Regions from separate parts of the Homo sapiens genome. Here region 1 is linked to region 2. Evidence: fine-mapped expression QTL. A gene starts in region 2. The other region holds a variant in brackets. All regions are shown on one strand. Distances are between the middles of the regions. Region 1 overlaps FKBP15 (FKBP prolyl isomerase family member 15). Region 2 holds the start of CDC26 (cell division cycle 26).

Region 1 (2,979 bases), 69 kb before region 2:
TTTGTTCCCTTGATTATTAGTTACATTTTCCCACCTCTTCACATGTCAAGTAATTTTTTACCGTAGGCCCAACTTGTATATAAAACAACATGAGGGATAAAATCATAAAACTCTTAGAAGAAAACGTAGAGGTGAATCGTCATGACCTTGGTTTTGGTAATGGATTCTCAGATAAAACACCAAAAGTACAAGTAACAAAAGAAAAAACTTGATAATATGGACTTCACCAAAATTAAAAACTTTTGTACATCAAAGGACATTATCAAGAAAGTGAAAAGATAATCTATAAAATATCTGCAAATAAGGGTTTAATACTCAGAATATATTAAAAGACTACTACAACTCCACAACAAAAAGACAAACAATCCAATTTTTAAAATGGACAAAGGGCTTGAGTAGACATCTCTCCACAGAAAATACATGAATGGTCAATAAGCAAATGAAAAGATACTCAACATTAGACATTGGGTAAAATGCACATTAAAACCACAATAAAGTACCATTCCACACCTACTAGAATGGCAAGAATTTAAAAATAATAATAATAACAAAATGCTGGCAAGGATGTGAAGAAACTGAAACCCTCATACATTGCTTGTGGGAATGTGAAATGGTGTGGCTGCTGTGGAAAACAGTTTGGCAGTTTCTCAAAAAGTGGTACATAAAATTACCATACGAGTCAGCAATTTCCACTCTTAGTATACAGCCAAAATAGGAACTTGACCATATACTTTTATGTCAGTCTTCACGATACATACTTTTTTTGTCTATTCCCAATAGACAAAAGGTATAAACAACCCAGTGTCCATCAACTGATGAATGAATAAACAAAATGTGGTATATACCTACAATGAAATATTTTTCAGCCATGAAAAGGAATGAAATACTGATGCATGCTATAACATGGGTGAACCTTCAGGACATTATGTGAAATGAAATACATCAGTCACCAAAGACAAATACTGTTATGATTCCACCTATATTAGGTACCTAGAAAGGGCAAATTCATAAAAACAAGAAGAGATTTGACCTTATGGGCAGCTGGGAAAAAGGAAGAAGTAGAGTTATTGCTTAATGGTTACACTTTCTGTTTGGGAAATGGATAGTAGTGATGGTTGCTCAATCAATACTGTGAATGCAATTAATGGCACTGGATTATGCACTTAAAAATGGTTAAATGGCAAATTTTATCTTATATATACATATGTATGTGTATATATATGTGTGTATTTGTGTATGTGTGTGTACACACGCACCCCACAATTGAACAACAAACAAACAAAAAAATGCCCAAATTCTTAAGCTAGGATCATATCACAAAGGTCAAATTTAACAATTTTGAATGGTTGGATTTGTTTTAACGCACAATAGTAAGCAAAATGTGATCATTTACTATATGCTTGATGTTATAAATTAACATTCAATACAAATAATCATCCTTATCTTCTGATAAACAAGACATCGGGCAAGCCAGATAAAAGCCAGCTCATTGGTATTATTTGGGACATCTGAATATACATGAGATGTGGGAGCACTCTCACCTCTCTGGCTGTGTGGTTCCCCAGAACTGCAGCACCAAATTTGCCCTGCTTTACATATTGACCATTTGTGCTA[T/C]AAAAGGAAGAGAAACAACAAGTATTAATACTTCCCTAAATTCTGCAGAACCAGCTTTCTTTTCTGTCATACAGAAGTGGGAACAACAGTCATTCAGCCTCTAGGCAGGGACACAGGTGAGCGGTTTAAAATTTTTTTTTTTTTTTTTTTTTTTGAGACAGAGTCTCGCTCTGTCACCAGGCTGGAGTGCAGTGACATGATCTTGGCTCACTGCAACCTCTGCCTCCCAGGTTCAAGCAATTCTTCTGCCTCGGCCTCCCAAAGTGCTGGGATTACAGGAGTGCGCCACCGCACCCGGCCCAGCAGTTTATAATTTAAAGCTCATATACTATTCCCTTACTCTTTAAATATAAATATCTATCATTCATGCTATCTCAGTGGAGAGGCTTTCTTTGAGCATTTGACAGCTGTTGAGGGTACAAGCACTCCCTAAAGACAGTAGACAAGATAATGGCTTTTCAAGTTTTACCACAGAAATCTCCAATTCAGATGTTAAAAGTTCTACTGATATTTTGTCCGTGGAAGGGCTAAATAACCGTTTTGCAACAAACAGAGGTTTTTCGAGAAAAAGTAGCTTAACTGCACGCCCTTCCACCAAACTTCAGAGGGTGTTCCTTCTCAGCGACTTACTATCGATATGCATGGACTGCTGTTGCGACCAGTATTGTGGGAGTGCTCATGGTGGCTGGTGCTGTTTTTGGTGTTGCCTGATTTCCTGAAGATGAACAAGAAAACAAAGTTGTCATTCACTTCTTGCTTTAAACTAATTTTTTTTAAAGACGGAGTTTCACTTTGTCACCCAGGCTGGAGTGCAGTGGCGTGATCTCGGTTCACTGCAACCTCCACCTCCCGGGTTCAAGCCATTCTCCTGCCTCAGCCTCATGAGTAGCTGGGATTCCAGTTGCGTGCCACCACATCCGGCTAATTTTTGTATTTTTAGTAGAGATGGGGTTTCACCATGTTGGACAGGCTGGTCTTGAACTCCTGACCTCGTGATCCACCTGCCTCAGCCTCCCAAAGTGCTGGAATTACAGGCGTGAGCTACTGTACCTGGCCTTAAACTAATTTTTAACCACTGAACTAGCTTCAAAATTGATCTTTATAATTTACAGTCAGTGTTGTAATGCTTTTATGATTATCCTTATTTGATCCACAAAGCAGCCCTATGATCTAGTCTGGGGGTGAAGAAACTGAGGTTCTAATCACCCAAGTGCCTCACACAATTATACCATGATAGTGCCTAGGTCTGAAACCCATGACTCCAACTCCCAACCCACACACCCCAAATAAGTCTTTGGCTAGACAAGGAGTACTGTCTAAAAAGTGATAGTCCATCTATTTTATTTTCTCCTTCCAGTATTTTGA
Region 2 (2,867 bases):
CATCATTTGTATATTCTCCACAGCATCCCCTAGAGTGTATCTATAAAAACAGTCAGTAAATGTTTGTTGACTAGAAGGTGAGATCATTCTTGAGCACCGTGCTGTTTTTCCATTCCCATTCTTTACATTCTTATTTTAACACAAAAACCCTGTGAAGTTGACAAAATGATTCCTATTTCACACATAAAGAAGTCATCGAAGCAAGCTGTTCAGTTTGGTTAATAATTTTAGCCTCCTATAAAAATTATAAAGGTCAACATGATAAGCATTAAGTGAAAATGATGGAAGTGAAAACTCCTTGAAAGTATGTACAGATACAAATTATTACACGTATCTAGGATGAAACTAAGGACTGTGAAGTATACAAAGGAAGAAATAGTTCCTTCTCCCATGAAGCTTAGGATACTACAGGTGATATTATCAACACAAAACACTGGCACATTACATTTCAAATTCCTTTGTACTAAATCAGGCATTATCTTCTACCAGATTCCAATGCAGACAAATGGTAGAGAAAGCCAAAGTTCCAAAGAGGGAAAGAGAGGGATAGGGATACCTAAAAGGGGGAAAAAAAAATCTATACATTTTACCTTTTCTGCAAACTGCAAAAAACTGGCCACTAGGGAGCAGTATAGATTAACAGTTAAAAGTGCTGGCTGTAGAGGTTAAAGGGCACAGGTTTTAATCCCACTACACCACCGATCCTGAACAATTCGTTTCATTTCTCACTAGACCTTAGTTCCCTCATCTGTATCCTACTCTGCTGTTGTAGGAAGTCAATAACGTAATACAGAGTAAGCTCTTGGAATATTATTTGGCATTTAATAAATGTTCAATAAATAACATCTATTATTGCTGTAATTGTTCTAGGGGGTTGCATGAGGATCTGGCCAGCTAGGGAAACGTCAATATTTTGAGGATCTCCCACCGCCCATGTGGGGATAAAAACCTTATCCTGTTCGTCTCTAATGCCCCAGCATCCAGCAGGGCAGAGAGACGTACAGAGTTACCTGACACCTTCCTATCCATCATCTTACTCTCAATCTGATACAAAGACCAGGCTGAAGACAAATCAACAAAATCAGGCCGAAGCTCCTCCGCCGGGTCTTTATTTGACTTTGGCACTAGCGGGCTCTTCTAGCTTAATCTCCCGCCGCAGCCCAAATCCACCGCCGAGCCATCAAGCTCAGAGGGGGAGCCTGGGAAGACTTCCGGACCATGGAGGAGAACAGTCCTCGTCCCCTAGCTCCAGGCCTGTACCTCGGAGCCCAGGCAAGGGTTTCTATGGTAACATGGTCCTCGGCTCCAAGAAGACGTAAACGCCCCCGTACGCCCGGGGGGCACAGCGGACCCCGGAAGCCCTTGACTCGCTCCAGAGTTCAGCCCCGAGCCGCGCGAGTCGACTCACCTACCTCTTTTCAAGCCGGCCTAGCCCCTTCCCGGAACCTCGGCTCCCCCCCAACGAAACTACTGCTAAGCCAACTGGACTACACTTCCCAGACTGCTTGGAGCCTCTCTCTCCGCAGAACCTCGTCTTCCGCGAGCTTTTCCTGGAGGTTCTAGGAGGGATGCCCCTCAATGCCACGACGCCATTTCCTACTACGACTTCCATCATGCTCCGCGCCGCTCCGGGGGCGGTGACCCCTCTTGGCCCACGTCTTGTCAGTGACGCACTTCCTGTCAGTGACGCACTTCCCCTCTGCTGGGCGCGCGGTGGACGGTCTGAAAGGGAGTGTTCGGGTTTCGCTGGGGCCTCGCGGCTCCAGAGCCCAGCATGGCTTCCTCGCGAGCCTCTTCCACGGTACAGAGCCCGGGATCCCAGCTCACTCTGGCAGGGAGCGCTAAGGGGGAAGGGGATCTCTGCGGGAAGGGGCCGTTAAGGAGCGGGAGAAGGCGGTGGAGGGCTGAGGAGGAAGGCTGCGGGACTCAGCGGTGTCCTACACAGCGGACCACCGTTTTCCTGATCCCTAAGCGCTTTCGTGGACTGTAGCTTATTTGCACCTCTCCCACTACAGCCCCAAAGGGCAAGCATCTCTTCCGACTCATCCAGTAACGGTGCTCTGAAATAGGGAAGTGTCTTGGCCAAGGTTTATGCCTTTGGCAGATCTCAGAATTTTAATGAGACCTACTAACTCCTACTACCTCACGTCTAGGAACGTTTGAAATGTATACACTTGTAATGTTGTAACTTGTTATCCTTTAGCACCGCGTTGGTTATTTCATCTATCCTTAGTATTTCCCCAGTGATAAGCAGTAATCCGGGAAGCATAAAACACGAGATTGAACACTTCCAACGGAATGAAGTAAACAGATTTCAGAGCAAACCTTTCATAGGAAAATACCCGAGAGAACCTCACTAGTTTTATTAATCCCATCAACCAAAGTGAGGGACTGAAACACCCTCACCCTACCTTCACCTCCTCAAATCAATGAAGAGCGTCTTAAGTAGTGTCCAATTTGTCCTTTCAATTACAGAGGAAACAGGACTGTGAAACTCAGGGTGAGCTTCATCCTCTGGTGAAGTCCGGTAAATTGCCAAGATTAAACCTTAGTTTAATGCAGATCTTTGATTTAGCAGGCAACCAAAACTAAAGCACCCGACGACTTAGTTGCTCCGGTCGTGAAGAAACCACACATCTATTATGGAAGTTTGGAAGAGAAGGAGAGGGAGCGTCTGGCCAAAGGAGAGTCTGGGATTTTGGGGAAAGACGGACTTAAAGCAGGGATCGAAGCTGGAAATATTAATATAACCTCTGGTAAGATGCAAATTGTGAGCCCATCTTTACCTCTTTGTGTAATGAATACCTTTCTAAACTTAAATACCACAGTTTTATAATGTCAAAAAATTACAATTTTTTTTTTTTTAA

What was found. PIP is the estimated chance that this variant, and not a neighbour inherited with it, causes the effect. A credible set is the group of variants that fine-mapping cannot tell apart.
Region 1: its variant is the best candidate, but not a certain one, in a credible set for the expression of CDC26 in whole blood (INTERVAL, PIP 0.56).

Annotation. Positions count from the first base shown.
Region 1 is chr9:113,204,968-113,207,946 of GRCh38, forward strand. FKBP15 (FKBP prolyl isomerase family member 15) reads right to left here. Exons shown (of 28, transcript NM_015258.2): 3 at 2,245-2,329; 4 at 1,542-1,611. Among named protein-coding and RNA genes, the nearest start is that of FKBP15, 15 kb to the right of the region's middle. The variant T/C (reference allele first, on the strand shown) is at 1,615.
Region 2 is chr9:113,273,970-113,276,836 of GRCh38, forward strand. It overlaps CDC26 (cell division cycle 26), which reads right to left and starts at 1,603. Exons shown (of 4, transcript NM_139286.4): 1 at 1,413-1,603. It overlaps PRPF4 (pre-mRNA splicing tri-snRNP complex factor PRPF4), which reads left to right and starts at 1,689. Exons shown (of 14, transcript NM_001244926.2): 1 at 1,689-1,801; 2 at 2,579-2,756. The coding sequence starts at 1,775. RefSeq lists enhancers at 714-1,569, 1,337-1,676.